4 linked regions of the Homo sapiens genome follow. The protein of the gene in region 1 interacts with the protein of each later gene in a biochemical or structural test. Each region holds a gene or a part of one and is shown on either strand. Other genes may lie near its edges. The genes, in order: ARHGEF7, SHANK2, PPM1E and PPM1F.

The links.
Region 2: the proteins of ARHGEF7 (region 1) and SHANK2 form a complex in vitro, tested with the Homo sapiens proteins (one study listed by BioGRID).
Region 3: the proteins of ARHGEF7 (region 1) and PPM1E form a complex in vitro, tested with the Homo sapiens proteins (one study listed by BioGRID).
Region 4: the proteins of ARHGEF7 (region 1) and PPM1F form a complex in vitro, tested with the Homo sapiens proteins (one study listed by BioGRID).

The regions. Positions count from the first base shown.
Region 1 is NC_000013.11:111,279,280-111,286,315, reverse strand, and holds part of ARHGEF7 (rho guanine nucleotide exchange factor 7), read right to left. Parts: intron 6,045-7,036; coding exon 5,966-6,044; intron 5,779-5,965; coding exon 5,639-5,778; coding exon of another isoform or gene 5,582-5,638; exon of another isoform or gene 5,192-5,581; intron 3,178-5,191; coding exon 2,953-3,177; coding exon of another isoform or gene 2,917-2,952; intron 1,912-2,916; exon of another isoform or gene 1,490-1,911; intron 170-1,489; coding exon 76-169; intron 1-75. UniProt on the Homo sapiens protein: Acts as a RAC1 guanine nucleotide exchange factor (GEF) and can induce membrane ruffling. Functions in cell migration, attachment and cell spreading. Promotes targeting of RAC1 to focal adhesions. May function as a positive regulator of apoptosis.
Region 2 is NC_000011.10:71,249,542-71,256,662, reverse strand, and holds the start of SHANK2 (SH3 and multiple ankyrin repeat domains protein 2), read left to right. Parts: upstream 1-4,085; 5' UTR 4,086-4,238; exon of another isoform or gene 4,239-4,362; intron 4,363-4,790; exon of another isoform or gene 4,791-5,249; intron 5,250-7,121. UniProt on the Homo sapiens protein: Seems to be an adapter protein in the postsynaptic density (PSD) of excitatory synapses that interconnects receptors of the postsynaptic membrane including NMDA-type and metabotropic glutamate receptors, and the actin-based cytoskeleton.
Region 3 is NC_000017.11:58,982,854-58,985,715, forward strand, and holds the end of PPM1E (protein phosphatase 1E), read left to right. Parts: 3' UTR 1-64; coding exon of another isoform or gene 65-68; 3' UTR 69-2,326; downstream 2,327-2,862. UniProt on the Homo sapiens protein: Protein phosphatase that inactivates multifunctional CaM kinases such as CAMK4 and CAMK2. Dephosphorylates and inactivates PAK. May play a role in the inhibition of actin fiber stress breakdown and in morphological changes driven by TNK2/CDC42.
Region 4 is NC_000022.11:21,949,815-21,956,720, forward strand, and holds the start of PPM1F (protein phosphatase 1F), read right to left. Parts: upstream 3,035-6,906; 5' UTR 2,978-3,034; intron 1-2,977. UniProt on the Homo sapiens protein: Dephosphorylates and concomitantly deactivates CaM-kinase II activated upon autophosphorylation, and CaM-kinases IV and I activated upon phosphorylation by CaM-kinase kinase. Promotes apoptosis.

The sequences.
Region 1 (7,036 bases):
CCTCTATCCCAGGAAAGCCATGGCCTACGTGACCAGGAGGCCACGTCCTCCACCACACGGACCGCAGGTACTCACTTTTCCGGGACGCGAACTCCTCATCTGAAGGCTTCCGTTCAGGTTTGCGCTTGGGCAGCAGCTTTTTCATGGTCTTAGGGCTCTTACTAAGATCCTAGGGAAAGACAAAAGAAAATGCTAACATACTCTAAAGCCAATCATTTTCACTGGCATATCAGAAAGGCTGCTGTAAAGGTATAAAACCCCAAATTATTATAGCCACTGATAAGAGCTTCTCGCCTTTTCCTACTTTGATTTTTCTTTACCAGCTTCTGAACGTTAATTTTTAAAAATCAATAGGGCATTTTCAGTATTAGTCATTGGCTAATTTTTTTTTTTTAATTCTAATAAAACCCCTCGTGTCATTTGGGTCCTGTTAGTCCTGTGATGAGAGGTGTCACCAGGAGGCAGGCTGGCGCTGGTGTGCACAGACATCCTGCACGCTCCTGAGGGAGGAGGAGAGGAGGGGGCAGCTGCTCCCTAGGACAGACCTATCCCCTGGCACAGCTAACTGGAAAGAGAGGAGGAAACTAAGGTTGTCATTAAATGACAGATAAGTAAAAAATAATTGCTTTAAGAAAATATTTGAAGTTTCAGGGAGAAGAAAAGGGAGCGAGTGCTCAGCTACCTGACTCTGAGTGCCAGGAGCACAGCCAAGCTCGGCCAGGGCTGCTGTGCAGGGGCCACATGCACACCAGCTCAGAGTGTTCACAACGGAATGGCCCACCCCTTACCTCTTCAAACAGCTTTTCAAACAAGCACAGAAGACGACGGCAAAAAACAAAGTGAGCAAAGCAAGTCCCAACAGAGCAGGTAAGGTGTCAACTGTCAAGCACGTGTTAAATACCGATATCAAAAAAAGGCTGGTTTCTGCATCACCCCAACGACATAAACCATCACGAATGCTAAACGCGAGACCAAGACTCAGAAGATGAGATGTGCTATGGAATGAACCAGGCTGGAAACAGAGGAAACAAAGCTTGGTTTTTAAAATTATCTTTAAAAGTCTTTTCTTGGGAGCTAAACAATGGGTACACATGGACATGACCATGGAAATGACAGACCCTGGGGACTCCAAAAGGCGGAAGGTGATGGGGGTGAGTTTTGAAAAGCTACCCATTGGGTACAATGTTTCCTATTTGGGTAATAGGTACCCCAGAAGCCCAAACCCCAGCATCACCCAATACAGCCACGTAACAAACTCTGAATCTAAAATAGCCTTCAAAAAGTTAAACAAAAGTATTTCTATAAAAAATTGGAAAGCTCTTAGAAATGCAGCAGCAATCTGTTCCAGAAGACACATTTATACACATGTGCTCATGGCTTCCCTAATTCGAAGCAAATTGAGATGGAGAGCCTTGAAGAGCCAACGCCCGCCCCTCACGTGCTCCGAGGGCACCTGCAGGCGCAGAGGGTCACAGAGCACACAGCACACCTGAGCCAGAGCCAGGCAGAGCGGGCTGCAGAGCGGCCTCCACGAGCCTCCATGTCCTCTTCTCACACCCTGCAAGATCACTCTCCACGCTACTGCTGGGCGGTGCTCAGCAACACTGGACGGCAGCTGCTCGGTGTGAGCCCTTCTCTCCCAGTGTGGAGTTGGCAAAGCAAATGCAGCCAGACTTATCAAAAAAAATTGTTTATCTTCACTTCAATACCCCTTCCGTTGCCCTTTCTACTTCTTTGCCCAACAGTTTTATCCCAATTTTCTTCCCTAGTAATTCAGTCTCCACCAGTTCTTGTAGTAGCTCACTTTTTCTTTAGACTGTGCACACTAAAGTATACAATAAGGAACAGCAACATTCTTCAAGTAACTTCCCATGATAGAAAATGGAAATTCTGACTTGCACACATGATTACCTGAAAGATATCATAAAAACAAAGACTCAGAACAAAAAATGAAAAGCACAGATCCTAATTTCTCATACAGTACTTTCCTGTGGGCCTTAAAACCCCCAGGGCTGCCGGCAAGAATGTAGAAAAAGTCTGCTCCAGTTCCCTTGGCAAATGTGGCCTTGACCAGACACAGAGGCACAATGCCAGGCAAGAGCGTGTCACCATCCTCACGCTCACTCACACCCCACCAACGGGCACTGCTGCTCACACTGACGCGCACGATACCCACACTCTCACCGCCACTCCTCATACCTCACCACCATGCACGCTCAACTGCTTATGAAAACAACTCTCATCTCAATTATCAGCTTCCTCAGGTGAAAGTACTTCTCAGAACAGATTTCTAAAGACACTTCCTTTCCTCATCCAAGCTGGTTTAGGTAAAAGTGTAAGGAAGTGTTAACACTTCTATTTATTCATTGGAATCGTACTTTATTTGCGCCTAGCAAATATAAAAATGCCGGATGAGAACAGAGACAAGCAAAGACCGCATCATGATTTCTTATGCATCAAAGGGGGAAACCGCCTAAGTGATTGTTTTTCATTTGTATTAGTAAATGTTCTCTTCATCTCAAATGGCTTCTGGATGACAAAATGCAGGGCTCCTGGACAGGATCCCCAACCTAGAGGAGGGGTCGTTAGACGCAGCAGACAGCGTGCAGATGCTGAGCGATGGCCTCACACACAGGGAGTGAAAGCCACCTGGGCTCAGCGCCTTTCCAGCTCCTGGCCCCTGGCGGCACACTCCTCCGGCAAGTGCAGTAAAGGCCCCCCTGTGCATGGCAGAAAGGAGGGGGACCCTGCACATCGCCTTCCCACACAGGTTACCACGGGCCTCTCAGCAGCAGAGCAGATAACCAGAGAACCAAGGCAGACCCCCCCTTCTCAGTTCTCTAGGAGTTAGGGTGCATTTTGCTGTACACAGAAGGCCCAGCACGTGGGCACACCCAGGGCCCGAGGCATGCTCACCGTCATCTGGCTGTTTGAGTGGTCAAGGGACCTCACCTCCTTGTAGCAGAGAGCAGCTGAGGGCCGGAGGGGAGGCGCGGGCCGCAGGCAGCTCAGGCTCCAGGGCTTGGGTGTTTTCGGAGGCTCCAGGGGTCCCCAGTTGATGGTGGTGTGCGGGGTGCCGTGGTGGGAGGGGTGGGGCAGCGTGTGGTAGGCGGGCGTCAGCGGCGCGGGCTTGCTGTCTGCGTGCTTGCTGGACGGAGTGACCGGGTGGGAGGGGAGCTGCCAAGGGCACAGAGCGGGAAGGGCAGAGAACATGAGACTCGCGTGCTCACCGCGAAAGGGCACTTATCACGCACTTCCTTCTGCTCTTTAAACACTCCATGTGAAATAAACCTCAGGATTTATCATTTCATTCGTATCTCTGGCTCTCAGCAGTCAGTTTTTGGGGCCAAACACTAGCTCGCGCCACCTGGGCCGAGCGTGGGGCTCCTCACGGCGTCTGCCCCAGACAGGAGGGGCAGCTCTAGCTGGGGCCCCAGCACTCAAAAGACATCCACTAGCCACATTTATTAGCTACGGAGTAACATTTATAGAAAAAAGGTACTTCATCTAGTAAAAAGATGAGAATTTCACAAAAGCACACAGGGCATGTGGCTGTAAGAAGGAAGGTGATTCCCCCCCAGCCACGTATTATTCTTCACCTGGTGATAAAGTACTGGGCGAAACTAAGGCCTGATCGCCTAGTTTTGTTTTTTAAAAAAGTTTTCCTGGCACACAGGCAGGCCTGTGCCTGTCTAAAACTGCTGTTGTGTTCCAAGGGCAGAGTACAGCTGCAAGAGGCCTGAACCTGTAAAGCAGAGAACGTTTACCATCTGGATCTTTACTGAACACTGCCAAACCCTGGTATTAAAACCAATTATGTTCTTAGAAAACTCAACTTTAATCAAAACAAAGTTAATCAAAAATTAACTTCTTAGAGCGGTGTGCCATTAATGCATTTTATATTCCTGGAAAACCCAAAATATTCCATCACAATGACAGTTAAATGAGAAAAGTTAAATAAGTCATTCTCAAAATCAGCCAATAATGACCTCAAATTAGCCAACAATAGTAAGGTGCATTTAATGGGAGAACAAGCTGTGTGGCGCTGTGAACTGGAAACGGAGTGGGGCCGGCATTCTGAGGAAGTGCGCGACCTTCAAAACACAGGCTGAGAGGGACGGCAGCTAATGCCACAATTTCAAGAATAGAAGCCATCAACTTCCTGCAACGATCACATTCTAGTCCCTGCATGGGGGAGGGAATTGTGTGAGATGCAGGTCATGCTATGAAGCCACTGTAAGGTCATCTTTTCATAGGAAATAATGTATAGATGGATAAAATTATGTAAGACATCCCTTCTAGCAACAACGTCAAAGCAGTGTCTGGTTTTGTTTCTCCTTTCTTGAAAAAGTCAAAGGAAGTATGCTTTATGCTAAAATTAGAAAATGATTTCAGCTGGTCAGAGTTGGATCACAGAATACATCATCCCACACAAGAAACTCTGTAGGAGAATGCAGAACATTTTAAACATGAGGCACAGTGCCTTCCCCGCTGAAGGGATGCCTTCCCAGCCACCAGTGAAAGAAACACTAAGACGGAGGGTCTGGCCACAGAGAAAAGCTGACTTGATATAAAATTGTATGAAGTAGAGTTTCAGGCTGCTGTTGAAAACCTGAGTGAAGCAGCTCATCCACTGTTCTTTATAAACACACGTGTACACACACGTCCCTGGGATAAACTGATCTCCATGAAAGAATGGAGAATTTTAAAATGGTAGAGCCATTAAAAATGAAATGCTAGCTAAAAGCCAATGAGTAGTTACAATCTTTACTGCTGAAAGAAATCAGATGGACTCTGAAACTCTGATGAGAATATCAGAGTACAGCAATCCTTCTTGAGCTACAACCTTCACATGAAGAAGAAAACATGAAAACTGAGCACACGACAGAGCTGATCCTAATAGCCTAATAAGGATGTGAGGAAATCTGTAAGCAGAAAACGCCTGTGTCATCGTCATTCATTCTTTAAAAGCTCTGCCCAGTTTTTCCGTATTACTTGATAAAGATGACGACTGTTAAAACAACCCGATACCAACTTCTTGAGCACAAAACACCAGGAGAGGTTTAAACACTGAAGCTTCAGTGTTCATCTATTCTGAAAAGTTGTAAAAAAAAAAAAAAAAAAAAAAAAAAAAGTCTCTAAATATCCAAAGACTTGTTGAGCTTTTCTAAGTAAAAGACACCTCAATTTCTTAAAATCAACAGTGTGTCATAAATTCTTTTAATGCCTTCAACATGAGTCTGGCCCTTTTCATCATCATAATCATTTATTTTTTGTTTTCTTAAATGAAGCATAATAAACAGTTAAAATTCTCAGAAAAATCATCTATAGTTGAGTGTAAAACTCCCCTAAATCAGTCTTCTAGGGCCACACGGAGCAGAAGCAGCTTCCCACCCAAGCACCTCTGAACTGTGCGTGAGGAGGCACAATTCAGGGTTGTTTCTCGAGAACACTCATTGGAAAACAATTCACTACTGCACGAAGAGGGCCAAAGATCTGCAGAGAAATGTGAAGCAAGTGTTTTGCACTTTTTATCCAAATATTGATTAGGTTTTAAAGCAACTGATCACTTGCTGACAGCTCAGCCACGGGATGCCACGCCTGGAGTCTGGAAGGAGGAGAAGCACCAAGTCCTTACGGTATGAGATGGCACTGAATGAGGCTTTATGGTGGGGTTTCCCACAGACGTGACCTTCGTTTGCTTCTGTAGGTGCTCCACCCATTCCTGCAGATCCTGCTGGTTGTTGCACGACACTAATATCCGCTCAATCATGCTCCCTATAGGAGAGAAGGAAAAAATAGGCCGAGTGGAAACACAGGTAAAAAGCACGTGCGTGCACACCCCCCAGAATTCCACTCAGCGCTTAAACACCACCTTCTGAAATACGCAAGCAAGAATCTGCACGCGGGGACAAGCTGCCTCTCCTCCCCGAGACACAGCACTCACACAGCTTGTGCCTATCACCTGATATTTCAAATGCATTTCTATGATTTTCACTGTCCTCAAGCTTTGTGATTGTCATTCCTGTCGTTGGAAGCTTTCCCTAAAAAAGACCCCCCCCCACAAAAAAAAAAACAATTAGTGCTTTTCTAGAAAAAGGTACCATTATTAAAGTCAATATTAAATGATTTTAGAATTGGTGGAGGAACTGTGTTTGTGAACCAAAAAAAGCTCATTTGTAGCAGATGTGTGTATAATACAAAAATTTTTATCTCAAATAATAAATTATAATACTGTACTGTAAGCAAGAAACTCAACTGGCGACAAGGGACAGAGTGACAAGCCCAAACACACACTGTATCTGATGAGCTGCTACTAAACATAGACACCAGGACAAAAGACATCACACATTATGATTTTTAAAAAACTACCGTGTATAACAGTTGTTTTAAATGATGTTTTTGCAGAAAAGAACCATGTATTTTCCTCGTAAAGAAATGCAGAGGAAGTTCCAAGTTTAAAGTCAAAATAAGGGTGGGAAATTGAGGCAAGAACAAGAATTTCATAACATTCTACTTTGTAAAACAGAAAATAAGTAGTTGTGCTAAATGCTGCACACAATGCACAAAATGGTTGGCAAACCAGTGCTCCCTGAAAACAGAAGAAATCGGTAACTGCACCAGGAAATGTCAATGGAAAGATACCAGAAAGGGGGTACAAAGTGATCATTACAAACAAGTCAGAAGTGAACACAAAACATCCTGGCACAGCTGACAGAAACCACAGTACATGGTGGCCCACCAAGTCCGCAGGAAGAGGCAGTGGGCGTCTGGGCAGCGCTGCCTGGGGAGCACTCCATCAGCTGCGGAGCAGGATTCTACATAAGCACCTCCAGACGGAGTGCTGCTCAACTGGTGTGGGGAACGTGCCCCCACAGAGAATGGGTGGCAGTGCCACAACCTGGCAGGGGCTCAGACCTCCAGCAAGTAAGGGCCAGAGAGGCTGCTGATACCCTACAGTGCCCAGGACAGTCTCACCGAGACCCCCAGCCCCTGGCCATGAACGATCCAGTCCAGAACGTCAGCAGTGCCCAGG
Region 2 (7,121 bases), on another chromosome or scaffold:
GGCCGGATCGTGAGATAGAAAAATAGTAATATACCGGGGTCAGTACTATCTGCAGTTTCGGGCATCCACTGGGGGGTCTTCGAAGTATCCCCTGTAATAAGGGTTGGGGGGGCACTGTATTATTTTGGGTTTCCCCTCAATGCTTTCCCTGAAACAAGGACTTGGATGCAGGCTCCTCCATTTGAGAGTTGACTCCAGGGAGCAGGAGTGAGGGAGCAGCGGAAGGGAGATGCAGAAGGAGGCCATCTCCAAATAAAGGTATTTTGTCCCGGACCCTGCTGTAAGCAACGGAGGCTCCAAAGGCCCTTCCTAGAAGCCAGAGAATGTGCCCCAGCAGGACTGTTCACCTGCTGGAGGGAGGCAGAGCAGCAACCTCTCCCAGCCTCCCAGCTCTGCTTCCACAAGGACTGGAAGTGGCCCCTCGGGGAATGAACTCCTCCATCCTACAGGATGCCCTGCACCCCCAAGGGAGGCCTGGGAGAAGGTGGATGACACCCTTGTTCCGGACGTGGGCCTCAAGGGAAGAGCTCATGGCCTGGCTGGGAAGCCTGGCAGACCCTGTCCCGCAGCTTTCCCTCCTGCCTGCTGCTCCCCACATCCTCCCGCTCCAGTGCAGCAGGAAAAGCTTCAGACCATCCCCTCTCATCAGCTCAGATTCCAGGAGAAACAAACTCTCCCTCCAATCTCCCAGGTGGCAGCCAAGATGCTTACGTTCAAAGTCCCAGGAGGCTTTTCTCAGCAAATCCATCCACATAAGCTCATGGAAAATTAATGGAGAGGAATAAAAATCCACAGTAAGCTAGAGGCGAGACGTGAGAGGCACTTCTGCACAGGAGTGAGAGGACATGTAAAATCTGGGAATCCTTACAGCATCAGGTTTATGTGATTGAATTAGAAGTTGTCACAAAATTGTGGAGAAATGAGTGAATTTTCCAGTATTTGACATGGGCGGGAACAGGACGGAAGTGGACCTCTTGCTGTAGTGGAAAACAAGTAGGAAAAAAATGGCAAAAGCACGGGAGAATCTGGCAGGGATGAGGGGATGTGGCAGACTTGCTGGCCAGAGCACCTACCTTTACTTGGGCATACCTGCCTTTAACTGGCTTCACCTGTGTGTGCTTGCCTTTACCTGGCTTCACCTGTGCACACCTGCCTGTGTGGTTCTGACCTCACGCCCTTGAGTGAGTCTCCTCCCCTCCTTGGACCTCAGCTTCCCACCTGTTAAATAACAGGGTTGCCTTGGGTTAGGCCACTCCCACTCGGGCTGTCTAAGAATCATTCTCTGAAGATGTGCTGGCCTCCAACTATTAATACATTAAGCCCCAAACCCAGGAGCTTCTCTGGGAGAAAGGGACTGCTGCTGAAGGCAGTGAGCATCTGGGTTAATCTAAGCCACAAAATATTTATAATGTTTTCCCCAGGACCAAAAAGGTGGCTATATCTCACATCCCTGATGGTATGGTGTCCCAGTTTCCAGTTCTCTATAAAACAGTTACTCTTCCCAGAAAGTCCTAGCGTGCTCAGGACCACACAGCGTGTACTCCACAGATGTGGCTGATGGTTTCATGGTTCAGGTTGGACAAGAAAAAAAGACAAGATGACCAGATGGAAAAGCTTACTCCTTTCTGCAAAACCTGGTGAATCCTGGAAGGCAGCTTCCAGAAACAAAACCGGAGGGTTCTGAAACCAGGAAGCCAGGAGGGTCATGTCTTCTTTTCCTAAACTGAACCTAAAACAAGGCACTTGGTGGTGTGTGTGGCTATGGGCCCCCCAGAAATTAGAATGCCAAAAGAGGTCCTACTTCAAATGAGCGGCGGGGGGTAGGTGTTCCCCTCAACCTGAGATGCCCGCTCAGAGCGTTAAGATGTGAATAAAGGCACTGTGGCAGCATTATCTGACCCTGAACCTTTTCATAAGAGCCTTTTTTTTTGGCTGTCAATACTTTTAGTTGACACATAATTGTACGTATTTATGGGTCCAGTGTGAGATGTTGATACACGTATGCAATGTGTAATGATCAAATTAGGGAAATTAGTGTATCCATCACCTGTAACCTTGATTTTCTTTGTTTTGGGATCATAAGAGATTTTTACAGACTTGAAGGATGTTGCTTCATCGGAGCACAAGGCTGAACTGGATATCTCTAAACAGACACAAAGAAACTGGGGCGTAAGCAGGATGCTGTCCTTAAAATGCCGAATGTCGGGGCTCTCACACAGCGCTCTTGTTGGCTAACAGATCAGAAAGACTGGAGGGGGATGGCCCAAGGGGTGTCCACTTGGGTGGAAGGCTGGCAGAGGCCTGCGTCCCTAGGGAAGTATTTCTTGGAGATAGCATAATGGCATCGGTCTTAAACCTTGCATGGAGATAGCCGAAAAATGTTCACAATTGAACTGTGACCAGCTGCCTGGTCTATCTGCAGCAGTGGTTCTAGAAACCTAGGAAGGGGTGTTCCAGGGGTGGGAATCTGGTGAGAGGAGGGAAATATCCTGAGGATAGGTCTTTGAGCTGGGTTTGCAGGGTAAATACACCACTTTATTCAGATGACTTGCCTTCTTTGGTGGGGAGGGTACTGATGGACTGTTATGGAAAGGTAGAGCCCCCACCCCCACTCCCTGCAACCCAGGTCTTGCATCTGCCACCGGCCAACCCAAAGAACATCCGATTGTCCTGCTCACACCTCTCCCAGGCACCCCAGCTTCCATGCCAAACAAAGGATGCCTGCAGGATCCTGTCAGGGCGTCCTTCTTCCTGTTTTGGGGATTATTATTTTTTGATTGATTGACTCCTTTATTCATTCAACAAATATTTTATCAAGTGTATGCTTAAGGAAGCAGCGACGAGAAAGACATTTACATAAGGCAGCTGCCCTCAAGGAGTTACAATATTTATTCCATGTGTGTCCTGAAATATTCAGGCCCCAAACACAACTTTTTTTTTTTTAACCTAAGTGCTTTTAAAGACTTCTTTGAAATGTGGGACAATTATGCAAGCTGAAAAAAAAAAGTATCTAGAGCAAATATTTAACTTTGCCTTTGGTATGTTGAAGTCACCAGCCCATGCAAACCTCTCAGGCATGTCCTGTAAGATAGACTGACTTACACACACACACACACACACACTCACTCTATGTAGGGGGCACAGTTAGGGGTTTGCATAATGCCGGGCTCCAGGGTTCTGGAGACAGTTCTACTCCACAGCTTGGACTCTGATCCCCACCCACACCTTCCAGAATACTGGAAAACTCAGAACACAGAGACCTCAAGAGCTTACTCAGAAACACGCAGCTCGTACTGGGGGAGACTCCCAGTGAATGATTAAGGCCTTGAGAAAATCTATCAGCCGATGGCTCACACGGCGGCCACAGCTCCAAGCTCAGGACCCGCCCCTTTGGGCTTCCGCAAACCTAGCAATCCGGAGTCCTGGATAATAACAGGATTCCTGGAGTCTCCGGAGGGTGCCTTTGGCCTCTGGGATTCACCCGAGCCGTTGGCTTTTGCTCCCCCCACCCCACCCCCTGGCTTTTCTTGGCTTGGAGGGCAGCTGGCGGAGATACCGTTGTGCACCCCTGGGCGGAAGGCGCCCCAGAACTGGTGGCCTGGGCAGCAGACGCCGGCGTATCACCCGGGTACAAAGTTTTCGTTTGCTCTGCAAACGTTTTGATGTGCAGGCAGCCTCTATTTCCAAATCCTATTATTATAAATACTCTGTGGCGGGAGCCAGCTGCGTTCGGGATAACCGTGCAGACCGAACCGGACTTTACAAAAATCAGGGACTTTCTCGTCCGCCGGCTTTGGCCAGGGAGGGGGAGGTCCGTGAGCCACGCAGCCCGGGGCGGGGCAGAGGCGGCCAGGGCGCCCCGCGGTCTCCCGGGGTTGCCACAACAGACCCCACGCGCACGCCCGAGCCGCAGCCGCGGGCGGGAGCGGGGTCGGGGCGGGGGACTGAGGTCCGCGGCGTGGGCGGGGGTGGGGGTCCAGGTCGGGTCGCCCGCGGGTCCTGGGCCGCACGCGTCCTTTCGGCGGCGAGAGGGCCCCTCCCCCACCCTCGCCGGAGCCAGCTCCCGCGCCGGGCGGGGCCGGGTCCTTCCCCACCCCCTGCACCTGAGCCGCGGCGGCGGCTCCTGAGCTCCGGCGGGGCTGGGCGCGGCGCCGCTCGGGTTCCCGCGGCCGATCCAGGTGTGCGCGGACGCTGGCGCTCCCGGGGGGCTCGGACCCGCCCCCGACTCGCCGAGCCAGGTGAGGCGGCGGCCGGGGACGCAGGGCGCGGGCCGGGGAGGACGGGAGGTGGCCCTTGGGCACCCGATCCTGCTCACTGACGGCATTTTGGGGGCATCTCGATTCCGGGAGCACCAACTACCGGGTAAGCGCAGTCCTGGACCCAGAGAGGCTGGAGAGGTGGGCGCTGGGGGGAGTGAGCCGCGTGTCCAGGTGGGGGTCGATTTTCCGTAGAGAGCCCTTCCCCCTGCATGCCTTTCTTCCCGGGCAGGGGCCGGTGTCGAAAGCTTTGGAAGCGGCGTGGGGGCAGAGCGCAGGAAGGAGCCCCCGCTTTATCTCCTGCGCGCATGGACCACGTAGTCTCTGGCGCGTCCTGCCCCTTCCTCTGGAACAGCGCGTGTGGCGCGACCTCCCCCGCTCTCCCGGGGTCTCCTTGCCCCGGGTCACCGCCCGCCAGCCCTAGGACCCGGGCCAGCGAGCCCAGCGGAGGAGCCGGCGCGGGGCCGCCAGGTGGCGCGCGGGGGCGGAGACCCGAACCGTGGCCGCCAGGTCCCCCGAGACCCCGCTGCGGTCACCCTGGCCCTGCACGCAGAGCTCCCATCCAGGCGCGCGCGGCGGCAGCAGCAGCTGTCGCGGAGAGGCCGGGGCCGGCGCGCCTGGTGCGGGCCCGGGGGTGGCGGGTCGGGCGCCCAGGTCCCGGGGGTCGCGCTGAGCCACAGCCGGGTGCCCGACCCCGGCCCGCCGTGCTCACCAGCTGGGATAGGGAGACCCGGCGGGCGCAGCCCGGCCGCCACCGTCCGTGAATTATGCAGGAAGCTGGCACCGGCGCGCTCGAGTTGATCAAGTTTCCCTGGCAACTTTCGCCCGGGCATCCCTCCTCCCCGGCGGCCGGGCAGCTCCGCCCGCCCAGCCCGCGGCCCAGGCGCCTCCACCGGGTGGCCCCGGCCCCGGGCGCCAGGCGCGGGGACCGCTCCCAGAGACGCCGACAGCGCACTCGTCACTTGGGCTGGAGCCGCCGGACTGAGCCAGCAGGTGCGACCACCGCAGCGGGCCTCGCCGCCCGGGTTCGGGGGGATGCGGGGGCTGGGGTGGACCTCGCCGCCAGGGTTCTGGGGCTTGGCGTGGGGGTGCAGCGCGGCGCCCTCCAGGCGGGTCTGCGTGCGGACACCCTGCTCGAGGTGGGTGGGCGCGTGGGCGAGGCTTGCCTTTCCGTGGGGCTGGAGCACCCAGAGGGAGAAAGGGTGGTGCAGGTGACCGTGGGTTTTCGCAGCCGATCTTTTAAAGGGGCTCGGGGCGCCTGGAACTGAGAAGGCGCTCGAGCCAGGCAGGTGAGGGGTGGGTGGTGGGGGGGTCAGGCGAAAGTACGTAAGGCTCTCGGGGGCTGGCAGCTGCTGGCAGGGGCCTGGGCGTCCTCAGAGGCCATCCGAAAATAAAGTGGTTTTCGGGTGGAAATTCGAGGTTGTAAATTGGATAGTTGAGTGACCTCTTTTTCGTTTGAAACTCAAGTTCGAACGTTAATGAGGCCAATCAGCTAATTAAGCTTCCAGATCCAGAGAGGTAATTTCGGAAGTCCCCCGGTGGGGGAGGGCGATTTGATCTCTATCTGGGATGTGGGCCTCGGTTTTGCCGACCCAGCCACAAGGGAAGTTCTGCGCCCCTGGAAAAGGACCTGGCAGATTCAGCCTTAACCCCGGTGCCCTGCGGTCCGCATCACATAGTTAGTGACGCCCTTCTGTGCACTAGGAACCGAGCCTGGTGCCCCAGAGGGTTCAGCAGGTCCAGAACAGCCCCGGGCCGATTGCTTTTGGAGTTTTCCAACTACTTGTGGGTTGGAAACAAGGTTGAGGGTCCTAATAGGGTTGAGCCTGTGGGGGTGGAGTGAGGAGAGCGAGCTCGGCCCCCATCTGGGTTCAGTGTTAATTCTGAGGGAAAGCCGTCGTGTCTGCTCTAAGAGGGGGATTGGTAGGTGGGAGCTGTGGGTTTCTATGCCGGATGTCACTGTCCTCTGAGGGGGCTTGAGGGAGACTCTTGTCCTGATAGGAATCTGGGTGTCCCAGTAGTGCCTGAATGATTCAGCTCCTGGGAAGCACTGTCTATATAAGGCCTCTGATTCCATTATTACACCCAGGAATTCCTTGTTTTCCTGGAAGGAAGAATTGGGTGGAAAGCTTGGTGCTTCTTTGGGTCCCTTTGGAAGGAGGTTGGAATTCAAGTATCAAAGGTAACTCTTTACAAGTAGGTGATTTCACCTATAAAGATGATCCCAGAGGGCTCGGTTGACAGCACTTGGCTGCTTTTAACAAATTAGATTCCCCCCCACCCCCGGGGAGGGGGGCGGTCTGTTGGGGGGATCTTTCTGTGTACTGTCTCCAAGTACAGTCTGCTATAGAAAACCGTATTCCTATTTGGGTGAGTTTCAAGATTTTCATTCATTCATTTCTTCATTCAGGTGCTTAGGGTTGTATGCAGGGCCATGCTGGCTTCTAGGGGTCTTGGTCTAGGCCTGGGCTTGGGGAGCCAGGTGATATCAGATGTGAGTGCTGCCCAGAGGAAGGTAAAGGGATTCTGAGACCGCATTGCATTTTATATTTCATTAGTGACGAGGAAAAGGATGGGAGAGAAAAACGGGCCGGGAATTAACCAGTATACAGAAACACACTCCTAAAAATGGCTCTTTATAGGAAGGCAGTGCTTTAGCATACTTGCCTTACTTCCAAATACGTAACAGAGTTGCAGACGAGAGAGTTCTGGGATCCCCGTCAGTCCCGATGAGGACTTTTCTAAAGTGGGGCTCAGCTTGGGAGTTGCTGCAGGGCCTGAGGTTGTGCCTCCTACTCTGAAAGAGTTCTGGGCCTGGACACCTGAGGTCTTACCTGCCTGCAATTCCAGCCTCCTGCTTTGTAA
Region 3 (2,862 bases), on another chromosome or scaffold:
TCTGTCACCTTCTGAAGCCTAGATCTTGTTAACCCATCAGGTGCAGTGTCAGTTTCAAATCAAATTATCTAAGAAAACAAGAAAACAAAGGCAGCAGACTATTGGTACACATTATAGTCCAAAGTGCTTAGCGAAGTAAAAAAAAAAGCTTTTTAAAATTTCTATTGTTGTCTATTGGTAATGTTTTTGATCAGAATAAAGAGGGTAAAGGGAAAAAGTTACTACACATGCTAGGCTTTCTCAGTGGGGAAAAAAATGGCTGGATAGAACTGGGACAAACACAGACCCATCTTTAGGGGTCTGGATTTTGTAGGTCCGACTACACAGCAGTGTTAACTCATTTCTCATGCCATTAGCTCTCTACAAAATAAAGCAAAGTAGTTCTAGTGTGGTCGTTATAAACCAATATTGTGAAAAATAGCAACTATTCATTTGTTCACAACATGCGTATTTATAGAGTAGTTAGGTACCATTTGTAAGGTAAATCCTTTAAAATTCTATAATACATACTAAAATAGTGGTTATTGGTCTGATATATGCTGCTCTTGGTTCTATAAACTAGATAAAAGCAGTGCTTTGTGAAATGCAGTGTTCTCTCTTAACGCCACTGGTGATAGGAAGTAGTTCCCTTCAGTTCAAATCCTGTGCCCTTATTTGCTGCTTGCTGACGTAAGCAATAAGTAACCCTCTAACTAATGGTATCTACATATTTCTGTAACTTGTATTTAATGATGGTGTACCTGGTGATTGTAAAAATATTAGACAGATATAAAAGTATCTATATAATATCTATAAACTGTTAATGCTGAGGTATAGTCTGTGAATTATGTGTTTTGTATTTTTATTCATTGTGTAATTTAGTGGTGGTGAAAGTTCTACACTCAATCCTTAAAGAGTGGCAGTATCCCTTTTTCAATTTAACATGGTCTGCATCAATCTGTTTGCCTGCTAAACAAGTTAGAATAGGAAATAGTAAAATAAATCCAAACAAGAGTGTAATATTGGTTAGGGAAACAAACTTCAGGTCACCAACTGAAGTCATTACAAACTCCTTGTACATTCACTGTGAGTTTCAAAGGGAGTCAGTCCCTAATTTACAGGTTTCCTTTGTTCACTTTCTAGATGTGTACTTTTGAGGGACATGAGGTTAGGCAACATTACAGCAACACACACTGGGGCTATTAATCCCATTTAGGTCTGTACTAAAGAGGATGGGTAGAAACACATATGTATATACCTTTTCTTTACCTAGAAGTGCCATCCATTGTCCTTGAATTATTATGATTAAAGTTACTGTTGCATTTAGGAGGCTCCTTGAAAGTAACACCTTTTCCAAGGACAATGGCAACAATGTCAATGTCAACACTGAGTCTAATTTTGACCACATTTATAGTGGTATAGTGTCAATACTGCATTTTCATGACAACCACACTCCACTGTTGAAACACTGTGCCAGTGAGAAGTGCAACATCCAGTGGGCAGATGAAAATGATGCATGGCCAAGTTCAGTGTTTACAGATAAAACTGCTGTGGTTCAAGTGCTTCCTTCCCCATCAAATCCTTGATAAGGCTTTGTGGGAAAATGATCTAAATTATTGTTTTAATTTTTAAACCTAATTTATTCACTCAGTGAACATTCTTACCTAAGCAAGGCTATAAAAGGGAATACTACAGTTTTGTCCACACTTTAATTTGAGACCATTTTTCTTTGAATCGTAAGTTAGCAAAAGAAATTTTTTTCACCTTTGAAAATCACGTGATGTTAAAGGACAAATGCCCACTCTTCTATTCTGATCTGCAAATAGCTTAAATGTCTCTTGCAAAACAAAGTAAGATACCACCAGTATTACAACACAATGATTTTCCAGACAAATGGTATGGTGTTGAAAAATAACTGTTACTTCTTAAAGCAGCATTTTATCTTCTATTTTGAAGACTATTTATTGTAATAATTAGAAAACATGAAATAGGGAACTCCAGACTGACACAGCAGTTGTTTTTGAAAAGGAAATAAACTTTGATGAATTAGATAATCCAGATACATCATTGTAAACTCTTACTCTAGGTGCTCTTTGGTGAGAGACAGGCTTTGTTCTCTTGTTCATAACATTTCTCTGCAAAGAATTCTCTATGGAGTGAAGCGAATGAAGTGAATAATTTCTTACCAAATAAATTTATCAATTTACAAATCTGCTCTACATCTCACTTTTGAGTTCAGTTGTAGTCATGAGTGATCCTTCATATTTTATTAAAAGTGTTCATTCAGGTAAGGTGTATGTTGAAATTTTGCCAATTATCTTAATAAAACCTGGCAATTTAAAAACCACTAGTCATTTGTCTTTTTATTTAAAGGAAAGGTAAGTTATTTACTGTTTAAATTTGTGCAGATTTCTTCAGAACTGGAAAATAAAATCCTGAGATGGACGTTAAGTTTGGAAGCTTGGAACATTTAAAAAGAAGATTTGCTAAATGCTGCTGTAACATTATTTTACCCCAGAAGAGAGGTATTTAGCCTTATACATGTTCTCTTCATTAGCTGAACTGCGAGGAGAGGGAGTGGTGTTATAATCCTAAAAGAAAAGAGGAACCCGACCTGCCAAGGACTAAGCGGTGGTCATCAAATCTCCCAACTACTTCATTCTTAGAACTCTGCATCTAACCAAGCTTTCCCCTTTCGCTTAGCCTCTTTGAGTTTCAAGCTAGAAGAAAGTAAGGAAATCATCAGATGAGCTGTGGTGGAAAGCCTCCCAAGGACTGCTGATAAGTGAGTAAAAGGAGACAGAGACAAAAAGGACAATGTGGGGGAGGGAAGTCACTTACGACACCTGCATCTGAAGGGAGGGAACTGACCTTCCAAACGAG
Region 4 (6,906 bases), on another chromosome or scaffold:
CCCACTGCACACCAAATGGGTGCTCACCCTCCTAGAACCTATTTAAGGTCCCACATAGGTGAGAAATGGCAAAGCAAACTCATCGGGGGGCAGCTGCAGGGGTGTGGCTGACGGTGCTGCCAGCTGCCATCCGCCCCTGCTCTGAGCACTCTTCCTGGGATGGCTTTTAGCCTCCCAACAACCTCTTGTGGTTATCCCCACTTCACAGGGCAGGCTGTAGCAGAAGAGCTAAGGAACTTGCCCAAAGTCCCAGGGTGGGGTTCATGCTGGGGAACCTGGGCCTTAACTGTGATGACACCTGGGAAGTCATTCTGACTCCTTCTATCCCTGACCTGTCCCTCATTGGCCACCAGCTCTGGGCTTTGGCTCTCTCATGGCTCCTCCTTCCATTTCTGTGTACCCCCCACCCTAGGGCAGCCCCTCCCCTCCTTGTTTTGTGGTGCCCTCCTTCCATTTTGCCTCCCGAGATCTCTCAGATCCTTTGAGGCTTTGCTGAAATCTCCCCATCTTTGGATCCAGCATGCTCTCTTTCATGTCTCTATGGCACTTTTGCTCACATCTGACTTGTAAAAAGTTTTTTTTTTTTTAATTTAAAATATTTATTTTCCTCTAGTGCATTAGTTTTGACTCCTAAGCTTAACGAATGCAGGGTTTAACAACTGCAGTTTTTTAGGGGACATAGAAAAAATACTTGTTGAGTCTTGCTTAACTGCAGAACCAAGGTAATGAAAAAAACCCAGCAATCCTTAGAAAAGGGAACTGCACCACTATAGTGTAACAAAAGCATCATTCATGTTAACTGTTTTTTTTTGTTTTTGTTTTTTTTGAGACAGAGTCTTGCTCTGTCACCCAGGCCGGAGTGCAGTGGCGCAATCTTGGCTCACGGCAACCTCCGCCTCTCAGGTTCAAGTGATTCTCCTGCCTAAGCCTCCCTAGTAGCTGGGATTACAGGCACCCACAACCACGCCTGGCTAATTTTTTTGTATTTTTAGTAGAGATGGGGTTTCACCATGTTGGCCAGGCTGGTCTCGAACTCCTGACCTCAGGTGATCTGCCCGCCTCAGCCTCCCAAAGTGCTGTGATTACAGGTATGAGACACCACGCCTGGCCAACCTTTTTCTACCAAAAGAGATTCTTATTTCTTTATTCATAACTACTAATACTAATAATAGTTAGATGTAAATCCTAGATTTTTTTTCTACATATATAAATTTTTTTTATTGTTGTAAAATATACACACTATGTATCCTTTTAACCATTTCTAAGCGTACAGTTCCATGGCATTAAGCATAGTCACATTGCTGTGCAATGACCATTTCTTTCTACAGGCCTGACTTTCTTGATAGACTGTAAGCTCCCTGTAGTCAGGGAGCCCACGATGGCCCTTTGTGTACAGCAGGTGGTAAGTGTGATGGCAGAGGGAAGAGTGACTGGCGGGTGGCATGGGCTGAGGAAGCTACACCACTCTGAAGGGTGCAGTGGGCAGCAGCGCCAGGTCTTAAAAGACTCGGTTGGCTTCAGGTCAGATGGTATCCTTTTTTTTTTTTTTTTTTTTTTTGAGAGGGAGTTTCGCTCTTGTTGCCCAGGCTGGAGTGCAATGGTGGGATCTCAGCTCACTGCAACCTTCGCCTCCCAGGTTCAAGCAATTCTCCTGCCTCAGCCTCCTGAGTAGCTAGGATTACAGGCACCTGCCACCACGCGCGGCTAATTTTTGTATTTTTAGTAGAGATGGGATTTTGCCATGCTGGTCTGGAACTCTTGACCTCAGGTGATATGCCTGCCTCGGCCTCCCAAAGTGCTGGGATTACAGGTATGAGCCACCGCGCCCGGCCTTCAGGGGGTATCTTAAAGGAATTCCACAAATGAACTTGTGTAGAGGTTCATGGCTTTCAGAAATGCATTCGTTTTGTTTACCTCTCACAACTACGCTGAGAAGTACATACTGTCAGGCTACACTGCAGATGAAGAAATAGGTTATAGGAGGGCAAGCACCCATTTAAGGTCTCACACAGGTGAAAGGGCAAAGCGAACTCAATCAAGGTCTCTGGATGCCCAATGCCTTTGGTATTTCCACCTCGCGTGCAGGAGGAAAAGAGCGAAATTTGACAACAGAAGAGACTGGAGATGGCCTCAGAGTGCTGGCCGGCCCCACTTTCTATCCCCCGTGGTGAGAGCTCAGCTGGGCCCAGAGAACTTGTCCCGGGGAATGCCACCACGACATGTGTGACTCTGTCCCGCAGGGTGGAAGGCTTCGAAGGAGCCCGCCACCATGCAGTGGGCCTCACTGTGTGTCAAGCGCTGTGCCGAAATCCCTGCAGCCGGAGCCAGTTCTTCCTGTTGTACAGACAGGTTCAGGGGCTTGCCTGACCGAACCCAGCGGCAATGTGCCCGGCCTCCGCGCCTGAGGCTCTGGCTCACAGACCTGTGGCTGAAGCAGCTGCAGCCCGAGCACTTGTGCAGCTGACGCTCGCTTCACGGACGCTTGGGAGGCCGCGGAGCCGGGGGCCATCAGGCAGACTGGGCCCCTGAAGGTGCAGGGACTGGGGGGATATGGGGCAACGTGCCGGCCCAGAGGCTCCTGGGGGGTGGGGAGAGGCCAAATCTCGGAAAATGGGGCGCGTCCCCCTCAGCACCCGATTCTGCCTCATAGCCCTCGGTCCCTACCAGGCCCTCGGCTCGGCCACACCCCCGCCTGCCCCCCAGTTCTGCCCCCTTGGCTCCCCAGCCCCCCAACTCCCAGCCTCGGGTTCCTCATGTCCGCAGCGGCCCCTCTTGCTCCTCGGCCCCCCGCACTGCACCCCCGCACCCTTTCGGTGCACCCATGTGAGCCTCGTCTCGGCCTCCTTGCCTCCCCAGCCCTCTGATTCCACCCCTCCGGTTCCTCGGTCCCATTTCACCCCTGTGCGCCTTGGGCGCTCGCCTGACCCTCGTCCCAGCCCCGTCAGCCCTCTAATCCCGTCCCCCCCGGCCTCCTCACCCCTGGTCTCCGCGGGCCTCAGCTGTCTCCTCGCGGCTCCGTGTCCCGCAAGCTGCTGCCGGCCGGCCCCGCCCACTTCCCGTCCCTGGCCGCCGCGGGCGCCGCGGGCGCCGCGCAGGCGCAGTCGGGCCTCCAGGCTGGCGGGGCCGGACCTCTGCTGCCCCCTGGCGGCTACGTGGACGGTGACTGCGGCCCTTTAGTGGTAGGCGAACTGCGGCTCCACCTGGGCTCCGGAGCCGCCCCAGTCACCAGCCTCTTGCTTCTCTTCTGCAGCTTTGGGTGGGCGGCTGGATGGGGAAAGCAATCCCTAGGTCACAGCGCCCAGAAATTAAGCAACTTCTGCCGTCAATAGCTGGTAAGTGACAGAGCAGGGATGCAAACCCAGACTGCCCAGGCAGGCTCATCCGTCCGGGAAGGAGGCACAGTCCCAGGCTCATTATGAGTTGTTTGTTTCCACAAACGTTGAGGCTTTTGTTATCTTTCCGTTCTGGAGGTCAGAAGTCCACTTAGCCTCAGTGGGCGAAGATCCAGGGATCGCCAGAATGCGTTCCTTTCTGAGGATTCTAGGGGAGAAACTGTTCCCCTGCCTTTTCCAGCTCCTAAGGGCTCCCTGCATACCTTGGCTCGTGGCCCCTTCCTACAGCCTCGAAGCCAGCAATGGCCAGTTGAGCCTTTCTCACACTGCCACCTCTGGTTCCCTCCTCTGCTTCCTTCTGCTACTTCTAAAGACCCTCCTGATGCCATTGGGCCCACCCAGATAGTCCAGCATCATCTCTCTAAATCAGTTGATTAGCAACCTTAATTCCCCTTTGCCCCTTATTATTATTATTATTTTTTTTTGACACGGAGTCTCACCCTGTCACCCAGGCTGTACTGCAGTGGCATGACCTCGACTCACTGCAACCTCTGCCTCCCTGGTTCAAGCGATTTTCCTGCCTCAGCCTCCCGAGTAGCTGGGACTGCAGGCACGCACCACCATGCCCGGCTAATTTTTTTTGTATTTTTAGTAGAGATGGGGTTTCACCATGTTGGTCAGGCTGGTCTCAAACTCCTGACCTCAAATGATCTGCCTGCCTCGGCCTCCCAAAGTGCTGGGATTACAGTACAGGCGTGAGCCACTATGCCGGGTCTGCCATGTAATCTAACACAGGCACAGGTATAGGACATGAACATCTCTGAAGGGCCATTTTTCTGCCAACACAGAGGCTCTTGAAAATATTCTTTTTCTCTCTTTTTAGAGACAAGCTCCTTCTCTGGTGCCCACACTGGAGTGCAGTGGCATGATCACAGCTCACTGCAGCCTCAAACTCCTGGGCTCAAGTGACCCTCCCCTCCTGCCTCAGCCTTCCTAGTGTCTGGGAACACAGGCAAGCACCACCACGCCCAGCTGATTAAAAAAAATTTGTAGAGACAGGGTCTCTATGTTGCCCAGGCTGGTCTTGAACTCTTGGGCTCAAGTGATCCTCCTGCCTCAGCCTTCCCAAGTGCTGGGATTATAGGTGTGAACCATTACACCTGGCCAAAATATTTTATTTTAAAGGCAGAAGAAAGAAACCTTTATGTCAAAGAAAATGTTTTAATATATGATATTAATATATTCACCTTTATACCAATGCCGTTGGAAAGTATAATTTTTTAAATGGAGGATGGGGCACCAGATCTTATGTGGCTCTGCCCACCTGACCTTCAGGTCCGCAGGCCTGTGTCCTTGCCAGGAATGAATGTCTCTGGGATGCTTCTCTAACAGGAGGAACCTGGAGTGAGACCAGGAACCTGGAGAACTAGCAGCTGGGTGACTGGAAAGGAAACCATCTGGGGTGGGGTTGGGTCTGCAAGGCAGGAGGTGTCTGGGCAGAGAAAGCAGGGCTGGGGCGGAGGGTCCTGCCTCATCCCATTCTCCTGCTCACTCTTTCCTAGATCCCTGTCAGGGCAGTAACCATGAGCAAGGCTTGAGGCTACTTCTTATAAACAGTGGCCCTGGGCACATTCCTTAGCTCACCTGAGCCTCAGTTTCTTGATGAGAAAAAATCGGGACAATAGCAACCAACCTATCTCAGAGGGCTGCTGTGAGACCCTGAGCCACTGTTTCTCAAACTGCCCCTGAGATCACCTACAACAGAATGGCTGTAGGGTGAAGTTTGAGAACCGCAGTACAGGTGAGGTGGTGCGTGGGGCAGGCCCTCCCACACTGTAAAGTGCAGTGTGGTGCGGTAAAAGCTGATATTCCCGCAGGCATCCTCAGAGTGGGCCCAATTAGACTCTTGAGCACTGATTCCATTCAAGGTCTGCGGCTTAGAGAGGATGGCAAAGTGAGGCACCACCAGGAGCTTGTCCCTATGGGCTCCAGGCCAAGGACGTGCCTGGAGATGACTCCTGCCTTGTGGCGCTGTCACTGCCTCACTGTCCACATTCCATCACGCCTCAGATCCTGGCTTCCACCCTGGTGAAAGGAATCTTTCAATATCACCCACCCAGCCACAGACGCTTCTCTGCTTCTCTGGCAAGGCTGCACCCCTGGCTAGGTGGGCAGGGCCAGGGGCTCCTTGAGACAGTCTGCAGCCACTGACCTCTCCAGCCTCCAGGGCAGAGGTACAGTCCCATGGAGCGTGGCTGATCTGAAGGCAGTTCTGGCCTAAAAGGGGTCTTGTCCCTTCCTTGTCCTCATTGCTCCCAAGGCCAGGTTGGCAGCAGTAGCAGCGGGGTTGGATGCTATTGGATGGGAGAAGGTGAATGGACTCGGAGTGCAGAATCAAGCTGCGGAAGCCAAGGGCCTTGAAGGAGGGTCACACACAAGGGACAACTGCAGAGGAAAATAAAGGAACACTTTGTGATTAGCCCTGCCTGTGGCTGAAAGCGCAGTGCAGAAGCATAGTAAGGAAGGACTGGGTGGTCTGGGTTTAAGACCTAGGAACCGTCTCTGCTCCTCCAAGCCTGAATGAGCCCTATAACCTAAGGGTCCTGGAGGTCTTGAAACCTTCTGCGGAGAAGGCTCCAGGTCCACTGGGCCCTGTGGGTGGAAGAGCAGAGTCACAGCCCCGCACTGGGGACCTAACAGGTGTGGCCTTGCTAGGGCCCCAGAATGGGACCAGAGTGGGTGGGAGGGGGCAGAAGCTCTGAGAGCACCCCCTCCTTCCTGAAGCCTGTGCTTCTGAGACACATCCCAGGACCCTCTATGTGGTTCCCCATGTCTCTGTATTTTCATTCAGCTTCGAGTAGCTCTCCAAACTGTGTTCCAGGGAACCCCCGTGTTAACCTGTGAGGGCCTCCAGGAAGGGGGTCCAGGGGGGGTATGCTTGGTGGGCTCTGGGTTTCCTTACAGGAGCTCTCATATAAGTCCTGGTGCAGCCTGGGAATCTACTACTGAGTTGGGGCGGGGGCGGGTCTGAGTCCGAAACATTCCTGACCTGCCCCTCAAAGAAAGGTCCCACTGAACAGTCTGGAAAGCTGTTTTGCTGAGCTCCCGTCATCACTCAATGAGGCACGGGCGGAGTGTGGAGGGAGTTTCCAACACACAGTGGATCCCGCACAGGTGTCTCTCCTCGGGTGGCTGGGGAGGGGAGCACAAGAAGGCACTGAGGTCAGAGGGCAGCTGCCACCAGCACCTGGCACCACACGGCAGTCTGGCCTACAGGGTATTTTCTAAACCTGGCATGTGAATGGGTTCCATGGGGCACCCAGCTGCCTCTAAGACCATAAGGGCTTGTTGTGAGAATGGGAATTGCAGCAGGTCCTGGGAAGCTGCCAGACGCACACGGGCACCATGTACAGGGCTTCTCAGAGATGGGAGCAGGGAGCAGGGGACGGAGAAGTGTGGGGTCAAGAGCGTGGCCCTGAGCAGGGGGCTGCAGCGAAGACCAAGGGGATTCATAAGCCAGATCCGGGGAGGGGGTCTCCCAGCCCCACCTGCTCCACTAGACTCCTCTCCTGCC